Linked DNA regions of Homo sapiens: region 2 is linked to region 1. A link means that fine-mapping ties the variant in region 1 to the expression of a gene that starts in the linked region. Tissue or cell type: whole blood. Region 1 holds a variant in brackets; the other region holds the start of a gene. All regions are shown on one strand. Distances are from middle to middle.

Evidence for each region. PIP is the estimated chance that this variant, and not a neighbour inherited with it, causes the effect.
Region 2: it holds the start of NFAM1, and the variant in region 1 is fine-mapped to the expression of NFAM1 in whole blood (TOPMed, PIP above 0.99).

The regions. Positions count from the first base shown.
Region 1 is chr22:42,384,553-42,392,651 of GRCh38, reverse strand. NFAM1 (NFAT activating protein with ITAM motif 1) reads left to right here. Exons shown (of 6, transcript NM_145912.8): 5 at 5,574-5,663; 6 at 7,432-8,099. The coding sequence ends at 7,491. Among named protein-coding and RNA genes, the nearest start is that of LINC01315, 19 kb to the right of the region's middle. The variant G/A (reference allele first, on the strand shown) is at 4,741.
Region 2 is chr22:42,428,814-42,436,912 of GRCh38, reverse strand. NFAM1 (NFAT activating protein with ITAM motif 1) reads left to right here and starts at 4,510. Exons shown (of 6, transcript NM_145912.8): 1 at 4,510-4,676. The coding sequence starts at 4,556.

The DNA of each region.
Region 1 (8,099 bases):
TGCAAAACAGGGTTAACAGTACAATATTGGTTTACAGCTTGCAAACATGCTGTGATTTCTTCCATCTGAAATTCCTTGAGCCCGCATCCCCCTCCAGCTCCCTGCCGTTTCTCCACAGCACCTTAGAACAGAGTTCCTCCAGCGTTGACAGAGCCCTCTCACCTTCAGCCCCTCTCCCTCTCCTTTCTGTTTCTCTCTACAGGCTTGCAACCCTCCTCTTCGCCAGAACCTTCCTTCTCAGGGTCACCATTGACTCCACATTGTTAAACCAATGGGCAGTTCTCGGTCCTCACCTTCCTTGATGAATCAACGGCATCTGACACCCTTGAGCTCTCCCTCCTCCTCAAACACACTTTCTTCACTTGCTTCCAGAACATTCCACACTCTCCTGATCCTCCCCTGCCTCACCATCACACCTCCTCAGCCCCTTTCACTTGTTCCTCTTCCAGAACCAGTGGAACCCTGAACTGTAAAGATTGGAGTAAATGTTGGAGCCCATCCTGGGACCCTTTTTCTTCTTCATTCCCTTCACTGGGTGATGTCATTTAGCCACAAGGTTCTGAAGACCATCTATATCCTGACAACTCCCAAGTTTATATTTCCAGCCCAGACATCTCCTCTGAACACCAGAGTCAACCCCACTTGAATGTCTAAACAACATCTCTCTCAAACCAAACTCCGATTTTTTTTTTTTTTTTTTTTTTTTGAGACAGAGTCTCGCTCTTGTCACCCAGGCTGGAGTGCAGTGGCGTGATCTCGGCTCACTGCAACCTCCGCCTCCCAGGTTCAAGTGATTCTCTTGCCTCAGCCTCCTGAGTAGCTGGGATTACAGGTGCGCACTACCACACCCGGCTAGTTTTTGTATTTTTAGTAGAGATGGGGTTTCAACATGTTGGCCAGGCTGGTCTCGAACTCCTGACCTCAAATGATCCGCCTGCCTCAGCCTCCCAAAGTGCTAGGATTGCAGATGTGAGCCACTGCGCCCAGCCTCGAACTCCAACTTTTTACCCCTCTGAGTGCCTCTTACCCACGTCTCCTCATCGCTGCTCCATCCTTCCCGTTGCTCAGGCTGGAAATGTTGAAGTTGTTCTCTCCATCTGTGTTTCAATCACTGCCCATATCTGATCTATCAACAAATCTTGCTTCAAAACGTATCCAGAATCCAGCCCTTCTCACTGCCCCAGCGCTAACACTGGTGGGAGCCACTCCCGTTTCTTGCCTGGAGTCCTGCAGTTGGTCTCTAAGCAGCTGGTCTATTTTTATCCTTTCCCCTCCCCATGTCCCCCTACCCCCACCCCCAAGACCCCTGTTCATTTTTCACCTGGCAGTAGCCAATGATCCTGGTAAGCCATCGACAGATCATGGCCCTCTGCTCAGAGCCCTCTGAGACAGAGACACCAAGATGGGGTTAGGTGAGCAAGGGGTTTATTAGAGAAACCCTCTGGGAGAGAAGATGAGGAAGGGGCTGGGGAAGACTGGGAGAGCAGCCCCTCCGCGGAGCAGGTCTGATCCCAAGGGAAGGAAGCCCCTAAACCGTCACACTGCCTAGGGGTGTGAGGAGTGCCCAGGTCAGAGGCATGTGGCCTCCATGCAAATGTGGTAACAGGTTTCAAGGCCCAGCAGCTGGGCGGTTTTGAGCCCTTGGTCAGTTCCGATCCCTTGAAGTGGAGGTCTGTGAAGCAGTTCTTACGACCGCCACGGTCCTGCAGAGGTTCCCCTCTCACCAAGGGTCAAGGTCAGCGCCCTGGGCCTCTGTGCTGGCTATTCCCTCCGCCCCAGGGTGGCCTTCCTGACACTGGCCACGGCTGCTCCCTCTTTTTTTTTTTTTTTTTTTTGAGACGGAGTCTCACTCTGTTGCCCAGGCTTGAGTGCAGTGGCACAATCTTGGCTCACTGCAACCTCTACCTCCCGGGTTCAAGTGATTCTCCTGCCTCAGCCTCCTGAGTATCTGGGACTACAGGCACCCGTCACCACGCCCGGCTAATTTTTGTATTTTTAGTAAAGACGGGGTTTTGCCATGTTGGCTGGGCTGGTCTTGAACTCCTGACCTCAGGTGACCTGCCCTCCTCAGCCTCCCAAAGTGCTGGGATTACAGGGGTGAGCCACCACACCCAGCCCGCTCCCTCATTCTTTCAGCTCTCTACCCTCATGGGACCTTTCAGTGCAGCATTTTCCTGACTTCCCTTTCAAAATTGCCCCCTCTTCCCTTTCCTGTCCCATCCCAACCTCCCTATCTTCCTTCTTTGAGTCTCTCCAGTGCCTTCATGGCTACCTTTTACTGTGATTATTGTCAATCTAGAGCCTCCTGGCACCCAGCACACAGTAAGTGCTCAGGGGTCACCTACTATATGATGGGCAGAAGCCTGTTCTTACCTCCCAGGGTGTCCGGGTTTCCACGGGGCCCAGCACAGGGAAGTGGGGACACTCAGTAGCAAATGTGAGGCGTCAGGATGTGATCTGCGTCCTCATTCAGCAGCAGTACTCAGAACCCCCACCCACCCGGCGGCTCTGTCCCAGCCCAGCCTGGCCCAGCATCCTCGATCTTACTCTCAGCCTCCAGGCCCTCCTGCTCCCGTTCCTGCTCTGAGCTGCTGCCGGAGGGACCTTTCTAACACACGACTCTGATGCATGGTGAGGAAAGCCTTCAGGGGCTCCCCATTTCCACTGCCTGGTCTAGAGCTGAATTGCTTCTCCACGGAGTGTGTTCCTTCCCGAACAACACCCCCAGATCTCACCCATCACCCCCAATGCCCAGGACTCTCAGACTAGGTCCAGGCCCAGGGACACTAACTTCAGCTCTGGCCTCAGCCTGCCTGGAGAAGGCCTCAGCATTGACTTCACACCTCTGCCAGTTGGATGATCACTGGGGTCAGCACCATTGCCCACTGGGCAGCAGGAGGCAAAGGGCCTGGGGGGCCTGGATCCCAGACAAACAGCCGCAGCCCAGCCCAGCCCCCAGCCCAGCCCAGCCCAGCCCCCCAGCCCCCAACACCCAGCCCAGCCACAGCCCAGCACCCTCCCAGACCCCAGCCCCCAACCCCCAGCCCAGCCCAGCCCCAGCCCCACAAGTGGCCCATTCCAAGGCCTGTGCAATCTCCCAGCAGGCATACCTAAGGGAGGGCCAGGAGGGGATGGTTCAGGAGCTCAAAGGGTGTCCTGTTGCCAAGGCTGCACCCTGCATTTCACAGCCTGGTGATGCAGGTCATACCCTGCATATAAATGCACCCAGCGGGTCAGGACTTGTCAAGGCCTCACTCAGCAGCTGCTAATTGGTGGCCACCTCCGCAGCCTCCCCTGTTCTCAGCCCCGCAGCTGCTCCTGCCCTGCCCACTGCACCACCGCCCACTCGCCTATTCCCCGACTCCCCCACTGTATGGGTTGGGGGCCTGCAGCATCCCAGGGCAGGCTAGTCTTCTCTGGCCCTGCATCACCTGCCCTCTCTGGGCTCATGTGTTCTGGGCAGCCCGGCTGAGCTGGACAGGAGGGAGAGGGAACCCCAGATCTACTCCCCTGCCGAGACATGGGCAAGGAGACTGCTCCCCTCCCTTTTCTCTGTGACCAGAATCATCCAGCTCAGAGAGACTGTCAGATCTGTGAGACTTAGAAGGGGTCTGGGCCTGGGTGGGTGGAGGGTTGGGGGCACAGGACCACAGAGGAACATTCCCATCCTGGGTGCCAGACCAGCTGGGGTGGCTGGTGCTCCGGACAGGCACGAAGGCCGCACAAGGCAGGGCAGGACTTGGAAGTTTCCCTCCATTCCAAATGAGGCTTCTTCCTGGGGCAGCCCTGGTCCCTTTCCTACAAGGAAGCAGGTTGGAAGCCCCTCTCCCCAGACCCAGCCTGTTTCTGGCTCAGAGACCCCTTGAACTCGTCCTCAGGGCCGCCCCACCATCCCCATGTCTGATGCCCTTGAAGTGAGGGTCTCCCAAGTGCCAAATGGTTTATTACTTGGATTTTCATGCCCAGCTGCCTCTTGGCGCCTGCCTCCCTCCCTCCTTCCCTCCCGCCTCCCGCCCTCCTCCTGCCTCTGAGCACCACCTGTCTCTCCAGCCTGCCTCAGCAACCCCTGCTTGCCTGTTGCCAGGGAAACCGCCTCCTTGGCAACCAGCCGGCATCCATATGACACGTACACTCAGGAAGGAAAGGCTTCTGCTCTTGCTTAGGCTGTTGGTGGGCTCTGCTCCGGAGTCCAACAGGTTCTGAGGGAGGGTCTGGTCTGTGATCCCAGAGAGGGGAGGTGGGCAGGCCTCATGCTTCTCTTGACCATTCAACAGCAGTTTATTAAGCACCTACTACTTCCCTGACTGTGTGTGTGGCCCTTTGTGCACAGTATCTCATTTAATCATGCATTGAACCTGCAAAATAGATGTGATTATTCCCATTTTACAGACGTGGAAACTGAGGCATGGAGCGGTTAAGGGGTTGCCTTTGGCTGGCGCAGTCAGAGCCGAGATTCGAACCTACTCTTGTCTGACTTTAAAGCCCCGGTTCTTTCTACCATCCTGAGGTCTCTGGCTAGGCCTTTCTTAGCTGGGCCAAGAGTGAGTGGGCCTAGGACACACCCGAGTGACGGGGAAGCCCCCTTACCATAGCTCATTTGGTGCTGCTCCCTTTGTGCCAAGCACAGCTGTAGAATCAGAAACCCAGAGATAGACTAGGCATGGTCCCTGCCCTCAAGGGGTTCCCATCTGGTGAGATGCTGGTGGGAGCAGGACTCCGACATGACCCAGTGCAGGAGCC[G/A]TGAGGCCAGGGACAGGGCCTCCAAGCCCAGCTGAGCTCAATACTGACTCGGGCTTCCTGGGAGGAGGCTTGGGCTATGGGGGGACCGTGGTCAGAGAGTGGGTGGCAGGAGCTTGAGACCTCCAGGGAGGCGCATATGGGTGATGACAGCAGCCCAGGTGGCCCAGGAGGGGTGGCTGAGGGGAATGAAAGGAAAGTGACAGGCAAGGGGGATGAGGGGTGTGCTGAGAACCAGGATTGGACTCTGGAATCCCCCAGCAGGGCACAGGCTCGATGACCAGGGAGTGTGACCCCAGTGGGTGCCTGGGTTATCCTTGAATACAGGCTGGGGTGGGGGTTGGGGAGAGCTAGAGGGTATGGGTGGGTGGGAGGACCCTCACAGGGGCCGGGGCTTTGAACAGGGGGGTGAAGGCAGAGGTCATGGGGGCATCCTATTGGAGCAGTGGCCACAGGTATCATGCAGGGGGCTGCTGGCTGCCAAGCCCTTAAGAGCCTAGGGACAGGCAGGGACAGCAGGAGGAGGCCTGGCCCTTTCTCTTGCCAGCCAGGTGGAAGCCTGGATAGAACCCTCCAGGTGGAATACAAGGCTCTACTGGAGGTCCTTAAGGGAGGTTAGGGAGGTGGCCGAGAACAGAGAGGGGTCAGCCCTTTACAGGCAGGGAAGGGGAAAGGTGACTCTGGGAAAGGGGGTGGCAGGTGCAAAGGTGTGGCTGGGCTTCACCCTCCCCTGGGCTCCCACGGTGGGGTGTGTAACAGGCAGGGGGCTGGCTGCTGGGGCCAGGGACTGCCCCTCTACACACTTGCCCCTGATCCTGGCACCCCGTTTCCTGTAGGCTCTGCAGCGCCGCGAGACCGAGGTCTATGCCTGCATCGAGAATGAGGATGGCAGCTCACCCACCGCCAAGCAGAGCCCCCTCTCCCAGGTACACAGGCGCTGGGGCACCAAGCCTGGCTTCTTGCTCCATCTGACCCTCCCATCACTGGTGAAGTGGGGGGGCAAATGGGACATGGAAGTGAGCCACCTGCTGTGGAATCCCAGCCATCTCCTGGTGGCAGCTGGCCTGCTGGTTAAGAGGACTGGTGCGTTTGAGTTCCTGCTCTGTCCCTTAGCCACTGTGCAGCCCTGGCCGAGGTGTCTGACTTCTCTGTGTCTGAATCTCCTTGTGTGCAGATTGAGCAACCTAACAGTACCCACCTCATAGATGTTCAGTGAGGGTAGAATGTACTGAGAGAGCTGCCTGGGACCCAGCTGTGCCCATGCACTATGAGCCACTGTAACTATCACTGGGCACAGTGTCCACATGGTCAGTCAGACAGGGGTGTTAGGCTTCCAGCTGCCCCCAGGTTGGTGTTGGCTAAAGTCTGGAGCTAGAGTGTGAGCTGGTAGAAGCTGGGCTGGCCTGGTCAGGGTTCTGTGATTGTCATGATAGGGCCTCAGGCATATTACCCAATCATACTTTCTCTCTTTTTTTTTGTTTTTGTTTTGTGTGTGTGTGTGTGTGTGTGTGTGTGTGTTTGTTTGTTTTTGTTTTTGTTTTGAGACAGAGTCTTGCTCCATCACCCAGGCCAGAGTGCAGTGGCGCGATCTCAGCTCACTGCAACCTCCACTTCTCAGGTTCAAGCAATTCTCCTGCCTCAGCCTCCCGAGTAGCTGGGATTACAGGCGCCCGCCCCTGTGCCCAGCTAATTTTTTGTGTTTTTAGTACAGACAGGTTTTCACCATGTTGGCCAGGCTGGTCTCGAACTCCTGACCTCATGATTCACCCACCTCAGCCTCCCAAAGTGCTGGGATTAAAGGTGTGAGGCACCGCGCCCGGCCCATACTTTCTCTCTTAAACCTGTTTGCTCATCTGTAAAGTGGATGAGCAGTGTTTTCCTGCAATACCAACTGCCTCTGAATTCAAATGTGTTCCAAGCTGAATAACATCTGCACCAGAGCTTCCAGCACCGTCAAGCGTGAGGCGTTGTTCAGCCAGAACAGGAGCCCACAGGCCTCTTGGAACATCTGTCAGGGAGTGCGGGCGCCTGGCACTTGGCCTTCTCTGGCTCGGGCTGGCACTATTTGTTAAATCGCCTGTTCTCAAAGCCCTTTCTATACTCAGCCCTCAACTAGACCCTGAGTGAAAGCAGGGACATCTCCGGCAGTGCCCACCCTGTGCCAGGCCCTGGGGTGCTGGACAGGAGAACTAGGCATGTCCCTACCCTCTGGGAGCCATAGTCTGCAGGAATAGGTCGCTGACCCCATGGACACACAGAGGCATTTGTAGCCCTGTTGTGAGGGGTGTTCTTCTGGGAGGGACCAGCCAGGGTGGGGAGGGAGGGAGGGGGTCCCTGGGACCCTATGATGAGCCCGCAGGCAGAGTGAGTAGGGGGCAGTCATGGAACAGGTGTGTCTGTGGGAGGAGGCGCATCCCACACATAGGGCAGAAGGCAGAGGGCAGAGCTGTGGGGGAAGCTCTGAGGCTGGAAGGGCAGGCCCATGTGGCTGGAGGGCAATGGGCAGGGGTGGGGGCAGCATGGTGGGGGAAGAGGCTGGGGAGGTGGGCTTGGAGACAGAGGGCAGGCCCCCCATCAAAGCTACACAGGAAGTGATCTGTTGCCCTCTGGCTAAAACTAAATTAGTGCAAGTTCATTCTTAATGGTCATTCTCTCTCTTTCTCTCCTTCCCTCCCTTTCTTCTTTTCTATCCAGGAGAGACCGCATAGATTCGAAGATGATGGCGAACTTAACCTGGTCTATGAAAATCTCTAGGATGGGCTCCACCGCTCATAGAGCTTGCCCTGGGTCAGAGGACCGGGGCAGCCCCTGCCACCAAAGGACTTGATCTGAGTTGGGAGTAAGGCCCCCAGGGACACCCCATCATTTCACCCTCACATTCAAGGCCCTTCCTGTCTTGGCCGGCCCCACTGCCCCCCCATTCTATGCCCCAACCACCAAGGCTTTCCCATCTTGGGGCCTTTGCCCAGGCTGTTCCTTCTGCCAGGCAGGCCCTTCCTCCCTTGGCCCAACCAGCAAAGCGCCCCTCAGTCTTCAAGGGCTTTCCTGGATGCCACCCTTGCCCAGAGCCCTGCTCACTGCCTCATGCTGACAGAGCAGCATGCTCTCTTGGCACCAGCCTGCACCTCAGCCAGTAGGGCAGCCTCTGAGCTGAGGGAGGACCCTGCAGGGGCGCCTAGCAGTGCTGTGTGGGGAGCCGAGGTATGGAGGAGCTGGGGAGCAGCTATGCAAATCCCTACCTACCCAGCTGGGCCAGAGGCACGAGGCAGCCAGGCAGGGTGGGAGCAGGGGCTGGCGTGGGAGGTCTGGGGGACAGACAAGGATGATGGACCCCTCAGAGGCAAGACTAGGATCAGGGACAG
Region 2 (8,099 bases), 44 kb before region 1:
CGTATAATATCTGCCCTGATTAAAGGACCAGGTGAATTGCAGGAGAGCGCAGTGGTTAAAGCCAGGTCCCGGGAGCTGGAGCCCTTGTTCCACTGCGTCTTCGCTGTGTGGCCTTGGGCAAGTGGCTTGTGTTCTCTGAACTCCAGTTTCCTCATCTGCGAAGCAGGAGCAGTCATAACACCTCCCATACAAGGTTTCTATGAGGGCTGAAGTACAAGAAAAGCCTTTAGAACTGTGTCTGGCATCAAACAAATGCTTAAGAGCCAAAAATACAAGCAGCTGGAACTGAGAGGGGATTCTGGAGACAAGCCAGGCCAGGCTTCCAGCCCGGGCAGCCTGCGGGCAGATGGCCTCCAGGTGGGTCTGCCTGCCTCTGGTGGGGTCAGCACCACCCAGCTGCAGGGCCACTGCGAGGCACAAGACGGCCCCAGAGGTAAACCCGGCTGCTCCTAGGATGGAGGCTGCCCTTTTTGATAGTGAGGGTGTTTGAGAGAGAGGGTGGATCGGCCCCTGAGTACCCTGGAACCCTTTTTGCCTCAGTGAAGCCAGCTCAGAGGGTCATTCTGAGGGGTCCCTCCTGCTGGTCGGCTCAGCTCCTCTTGGTGCTGGAGTCTTTGGGGAGGAAGGAAGTGATTTTCGCAGCCGCAGCGGGGAGCAGAGGGATCTCCTTCCCACGGCACTTCTGCTTCCTGTGCAGAAAGGAACCATGAAGAGCTCAGGACCTCACTGTGTCCCGGCTGGAGGCCTCTCAGCTGCCACTTGCTGGCTGGGGCATTTGAAAATCCTGGATTGAGGCCGGGTGCGGTGGCTCACGCCTGTAGTCCCAGCACTTCGGGAGGCCAAGGCGGGCAGATCACCTGAGGTCAGGAGTTCGAGACCAGCCTGGCCAACATGGTAAAACCCTATCTCTACTAAAAATACAAAAATTAGCCAGGTGTGGTGGCAGGCGCCTGTAATCCCAACTACTCGGAAGGCTGAGGCGGGAGAATCACTTGAACCCGCAAGGCAGAGATTTCAGTGAGCTGAGATCATGCCACTGCACTCCAGCCTAGTGGAGTCTTTTTTGAGCCTGTCTCAAAAAAAAAAAAAAAAAAAAAGAAGAAGAAAAGGAAATCTTGGAGGTGGTCGTGGGTAGGGGATCTGTTTTTCTCCCTGGACAGGGAGCGCCTTGAGGGCAAAACCATGACTTATGTTTTGTCTGCCCAATGCCTGGCACGCAGTAGGCACATAATAAGTGTTTGTGGAACTAAACTGAAAACAGAGACCAGCTGGGCAAAGTGGCTCACACCTATAATCGCAGCACTTTGGGAGGCTGAGGTGGGCGGATCACCTGAGGTTGGGAGTTCGAGACCAGCCTGACCAACATGAAGAAATGCCATCTCTACTAAAAATACAAAATTAGCCGGGCGTGGTGGCACATGCCTGTAATCCCAGCTACTCGGGAGGCTGAGGCAGGAGAATCACTTGAACCCGGGAGGCAGAGTTTACGGTGAGCCGAGATCGCGCCATTGCACTCCAGCCTGGGCAACAAGAGAAAAATTCTGTCTCAAAAAAAAAAAAAAAAGAAAGAAAAGAAAAAGAAAACAGAGGCCAGTAATTGTGGTCTCATTTGGAAAGCCTTAGTCTTGGTGTCGAGGAGGCCCCTGGGGACTGCAGGGGACACCTGGGCTCCCCCATTTCCCCACCCAGCTTCCACCTCCTTCAGGGCTGCCACTCAGAAATTACTTTAACCTCCCTGTTCCTCAGTTTCCTCATCTGTACAATGGAGGTGATTAGAGTGCCTGCCCCATAGGGCTGCAGTGAGGATTAAACTGGCAAGGAGAGCAGGTCCCCTGGAGCAGTGTCAGGCGCTTGGAAGCTTCCCGGAACTGCTCTATTATTGCTTCACTCTGCTGAGGTTGCCGTGCCCCTAGGCTTCCCAGGGAGGCTAGGCTCTTTCACTTCTACAGCCTCCGTGAGGCCAGGGCCCAGGGCAGGGCAGGTGTTCAGTATACTGTGAGGCATAGATGCACGGATAAACGGGGAATGGACGGAGGTCTGGGCAAAAGCCAGTGGCTGAGACGTGTGGTCCCCAGGGACCTCACCTGCAAATTCAGCTGCCAAGGCCTAGCTCGAAGGCTGTGCCACTGAAGCTGCCCCTGGGACACCCACAGAGCCTCCTCATTCCTCTGCTCCGCCTTCAGCCTTTGGGGCCTTTACTGTTTATTCACAGCTCTGGCTGAGGGCACAGGAGAGGAAGCACATGAGAGGTGCTAGAAAGTTTTGGTAGAAATGAGGCTCCTGGATGCGCTGCGGTTTTATTTCTATCCCCCTGGCTCCCGAGGAGGATCAGGGCCAGACACGAGGCCCCGACAGCGCAGCCAGGGCTGCTGGGCTCCTTGCCAAGGTGCGTCCCTGCCTCTCCCCAGGAGGCTGCGTGGCTGCAGAGCGTCTCAGAAACTGGGCAATGAGCTGGGACCCTCAGCTGCTTCTTGTCCAGTCATGTCTGCGCTCCACAGCCCAGGGCCTGCCTGGGGAGTATGCACGCCTCCTCCCACCCTGCCTCCCAGAGGCTACCCCTTCCCTTGAGGCCTCTTGTGCACCAGCGTGGTGTTGGGCACCTGCCTTCATATCAAGCCTGGAGGAAGGCTTCTCCCTGCCTTATGCTCACCCATCCGTCCATTCCTGCACCCCCTGGGCCAGGCTCAAGAAGGAGAGGGGAGGAAGACAGGCAGCTCAGGCAGGCAAGCGTGGAAACCAGGTGTGCAGCAGGCTAGACCCAGACTCAGAGGCGGCAGAACTCCCGGGAGTCCGAGGTACAGAGTTGGGGTGTGGGGGGCACCGTGACAGGCTGAGAGGTAGGGTCAGTGAGCTGGCACAGGGGCAGGAGCGGAGGCGGCACCAGGGCTGGAAGAGCAGGCTCCCTTGTTCCGAGGCAGTTTGGCATTCAGCTGCCTCCCAGTGCCAAGTCGTAATGAGACTTGTAGAGGCACAGACCGATGCTTTTCCAATGCTCCCCGTGTACCCTGAGGCATTGACACGAGGTCTATCACCATGGCATCAAGGTGCTTAGACAACCTGCTACTCCCAGGAGCCAGGAATAGCGTGAAGCAGCGGGTCTGCATCTCACTGTGACATATGTGAGCATGTATCACTGTGATGGATCAACAGTCAATAACACTGGGGTCCCCGCCTGCCCCCTGCGCGGTAGGAAACTTCTCCTGTTCATATGTCTTCCTCCCCTGGTGGGCGGCCCCTGCTCTTGCCAGCCTCCCAGTGCTCGTGGCATTGGTGGAAACGTCTTTAGGCTTTCACTGTTCATGTTTGGAGCAGCCCAGGGAAAAGCATGTGTGCAAAGAACTGAAATGGATCTCATGATGCCGTCACCGGGGGCTGCAGCTGGACACACCTGAGCAGGCAGTAGCAGGGTGGGAGAAGGCTCGGACATCATACCACTGGCAGTTCAAATGCCCGCCCCACAGACCTGCCCTGATCCTAGGCATGTTGTTTTGCCTCCTGGGGCCGAGGTCTTCTCTTTTGTACAACTGGGATCATCACATTTATCTGGTGAGTGAAGGGACACCTGCAGAGAAGGGAGGTAAGCGCTCAGCATGCGCTGAAACTCAGCCACCTTCCCGCCTGCGTCTTCCATGTACCAGGTGCCTCCAGCTCCACCAGCCATCACCACACCCCAGCCCCTTTCCTCTGCCACTCCAGACACGCAGGCAGATGTGTGGGTGCCAAGGGTGAGGGGCTCCCAGTCTGCTGGGGAAGGGGGTCCCGGCAGCAAACAATTCCTGTCCCCGGCTGATGCTGCTAGAAGTGAGAGCAGGGGCTGTGACCTGCAGCCAATGGGGAAGCAGTTCGAGGGTCTCACAGTTGGGAGGCCGAGTGAGCTAAGCTTTAGGGCAGCCACAGGGAGGAGCTGACGTTAGAGATGGACCAGAGAGGAGGCGTCTCCTGGGCCTCTGCAGGGGACCCACAGAGGTTCTCGCTGGGTGAATGATGGGCAGCCTGCCTTTCACCTGCCCTGGGTGTTTGGCCCTCTCTAGGGCTGGGAACATGAGGCTCCTGCCCTTCACCCCAGCCTCCCTACCACCCCTCACCAAAAAACCTACCTTTGGTAAACACATTATTAAGGGATTCTCAGAATATTTTAGAGAAGTTTGTGTGAACATGCTTGTGGTCGTTTTAAAAGTGTTTCAGAAGTGAGAGGCTAAACCAAGGCCCGAAGTCACTCATGGAAATCCCATGATCCCTCTGCACAGTTACCAGTGTCTCCTGGACGGGGCCCCTGCTGGAAAGGGGCCGAGACAGGGTGAAGCCCACCAGGGGTTGGAGTGGGGAGGCTTGGGTCCCGTCTCCAGCTCTTCTTCTGGTTGTGTGGCCTGGACCAGTCTCAGTGCCAGGTTCCTCATCTGGCGGCCACCCTGCTGGGCTGTTCCAGCTTTGCTTCTGAGCGGAAGGTCAGGGGCTGCCAGGGAGGAGCTTCGTGGGGAAAGCAAAGGGGAAGCTGTCAGCGCCGGCCGTCCCCTCCTGTGAACTAAAGAGTCGCCGCAGACAAGCAGGCCCCCAGATGGAGAACCAGCCTGTGAGGTGGCGGGCCCTGCCAGGCCTCCCACGCCCTCCTGGGCTCCCCGCAGCCCCCTGGCTCCTCCTTGGCGTGCTGCTGCTGCCCGGGACCCTGCGACTGGCAGGTAGTGTCTGTCTTCCTCCTTCTCTCTACTCTCTCGCTCCAGAACATCAGAGCGGCTTTCATCCCGCCCGGCGCAGCTAATTCCCAGGGACCTGTCTCTGGGGATTTGCTGGTTGTCGTTTGAACGCTGCAGACTTCACAGGGGAAGCCTTCTGGGACCGAGAAGATGTTTAGCTAATGCCTTGCCAAGGTGGCTTTTGAAGGGGAGGGGGACAGCGCTCTCTCCCTCGCTGCTGTGACAGCTTTGCCCCAGCAGTCTGGCCTCCTGGCCCTTAAACAAGGAGGGTGGGCGCTGTGTGGCTGGGGCCAGGGGCGGGGCAGGGGGGAGGGACAGCTCCCCATCCGAGGAACCTCACGTGGCTGCTGCGGGGGACACTGCGTTGAACCTGGCAAGTGGTGGGGCTACCCTCTGGGTTGTTGCTGGCATTGGCCAGGGAGAGCGGGGAGAGGGGGGAGGGGGGGATACCAGGGCCAGCCACAGGGCTCTGCGCCCAGAGGCACAAAACTGTCAGTCACCAGAAAGGGTCTCACCTCCCAGTTCCTGAAACACAACCAGAGGCCAAGTGTTTTAGGATGCAAGTGTGTCTTTCCACGCCAGCGGCGCTCCTTTCCTGGTTCCAGGCTTTCTTGGAAGCTGGGTGGCCGGGATCCGAGCCAAGCTGTGGGGTAGGTAGCCTCAGGGCCAGTTCATCAGGCCAGGGACGGCCCAGGAGGGTCCCATTCCAGGGCTGCCAGCACGAGGGCTCAGTGAATTCTGCCAGATTCTCTCTGCCCCTCCTTGGCCGGGCAGCAGCCAACCCTCCCTCTGGCCAAAGGGGTGGCCTCCACTGTGGAGACAGGGTGCCTTCCTTTCTATTCTCTTAGTTTATGGGGCTTTCAAGAGCTGCCCCCACCCTGTCCTGCTGCACCCCCTCTCATGACCACAAATTAGGCTTTATGGAGCCCTTAGCAGGGCACGTACTGGCCACCCTCACAGCACCCCTTGGGGCTCCTATTGTCCTCACCTGCACCATTTTAAGGACAGGGAAAAGGAGGCCCAGGGAAGCCAGTTCGTTTGCTCAAGACCTAGCCGGTAAGTAGAGGCCAGCCTCAGCCCCAGGCCAGCCTCAGCCCCAAGCTGGGCCCCTCGGCCAGTAGGCTCAGAGGATCCTCTTACTTGTAAAGAATGTTCTTCACCGGAAACTTACCCTGGGGAGGCAAAGGCTGACCTGTGTGTACCTCCCCAGGCTGCAGCCCAGAGCCCTAGGACACCATCTCCTTTAATCCTGTGCACGCCTCGCCCCACACCCCAGACAGTTGGTGCAAACACGGCCAGACCCCGGAAATGCAGCCTGTTAGTGTCAATGTGTCTCAACTACAGTCATTTTTAATTTAATTTCCCCCCAATTCCCATCCTTTCCCTTTGTGTGGTTCCTCCTCCCCAAAAGACACCCAGCACACCCTGGTAACCGAGCAGTAAGAGGTTTTATGGGGTGCTACTGGGGAAAAGCTCTTTTGTAACAGTCTCAACTATAACAAAACATTCCCAGTGCCACCCCCTCCCACCCGGTATTGCAACAAACATTACATAAAAGAGAAACTGTTCTTTCACAAGAGGTGAAAACACCCTTACGGTGTCCTAGAGTCCCTTGGAGCAGCAGACAAACCCCCACCCATGATTTTTTTTTTTTTTTTTTTTTTTGAGAGTTTCACTCTTGTCACTCAGGCTGAAGTGCAATGGCGCCATCTTGGTTCACGGCAACCTCTGCCTCCTGGGTTCAAGTGATTCTCCTGCCTCAGCCTCACGAGTAGCTGGCACTACAGGTGCCCACCACCATGCCCAGCTAATTTTTGTATTTTTAGTAGAGACAGAGTTTTGCCATGTTGGCCAGGCTGGTCTTGAACTCCTGACCGCAGGTGATCTGCCCGCCTCAGCCTCCCAAAGTGCTGGGATTACAGGCGTGAGCCACTGTGCCCGTCCTGTTTTTATTTTTTTGAGACAGGGTCTCGCTCCGTCCACCAGGCTGGAGTGCAGTGGTGCAATCTCAGCTCACTACAACCTCTGCCTCCCTCACTCAAATGATCCTCCCACCTCAGCCTCCCGAATAACTGGAACCACAGCGTGTGCCACCACACCCAGCTATTTTTTAAATTTTTTCGTAGAGATAGAGACTCACAGTGTTGCCCAGGCTGGTCTCGAACTCCTGACCTCAGGTGATCCACCCGCCTTGGCCTCCCAAAGTGCTGGGATTACAGGCGTGAGCCACTGTGCCCAACCCCCAACCCGCTCTTTGTCCTACCCCTGTGCATCCCCCTTCATCTATCTGTCACTCCATGTCACACCCCTGCCTTCTCGTCTCAGAGCTTTGAGGGTTTGCTGGAAGGAATCTTGCCCCTCCCACATCTTCCAAACCTCCCCTGACCGTAACCATCAGCCTTAACCATCAGCCTGGTGCAACCAGCTCTGCCACCTGTCAGTACCAACCCAGCTTGCATCCCTCAGCTGTGTCCACAGGGGTGTCACTGAAGGCCAGCGTCCCTGATTCTGCATCGTATCCCTGAACTTGCGAGAGGATGCTGGCTTAGGAGTACAGGCCAGGGGCATTCATCTTCAGTTTGATTTTTTATTTATTTATTTATTTTGAGACGGAGTCTCGCTCTGTTGCCCAGGCTGGAGTGCAGTGGCACCATCTCGGCTTACTGCAACCTCCGCCTCCCAGGTTCAAGCGATTCTCCTGCCTCAGCCTCCTGAGTAGCTGGGATTGCAGGCACCCACCACCATGCCTGGCTAATTTCTGTATTTTTAGTAGAGTCAGGTTTTCACCGTGTTGGCCAGGCTGGTCTCGAACTCCTGACCTCAGGTGATCCCCCCACCTTGGCCTCCCAAAGTGCTGGGATTACAGGCGTGAGCCACCGCACCCGGCCCAGTTTGAATTTGAGCTCTGCTACTTGCCCAGGCACCCTGGGCAGATTACTTCTATCGCTATGCCTCAATTGTCTCCTCTGTTAAATGGATGTGATAACACTGCCTGCCTAAACACATCCTGAGGACTGAGTGCCCAGTATGTCATTAGTCCTCAGTGAGTGTCAGCCACCTGCCAGCCTCGCCAGAGCCATGGAAACTTGAGGTGCAGTTGGTGAGCCCACGGCCTCCAGCTCATCCTGGGTACCTGCTCCTGCTCCCAGCCATCCTCCTCCTCCCACTTGAGCCGGGACTTGGGCCTGTCCTCTGGCTTCTTGACCCCTCTGCAAAGCCTGCTTTTCTCAAAGGCAGCCACTGGTGGTCTCCCCAAGACAGGAATTGCTGGGGGCTTGGCTTTTCCAGGAGCAGCTGCAACTCAGCTTCCATGGGCCTCAGTCCTCCCCAAGGACTTTGGGGCTGGACAGACCTGAGTTCCAGGCCTGCCTTCTTCTGGTGACAGCTGTGTGACCTCAGGCAATTACT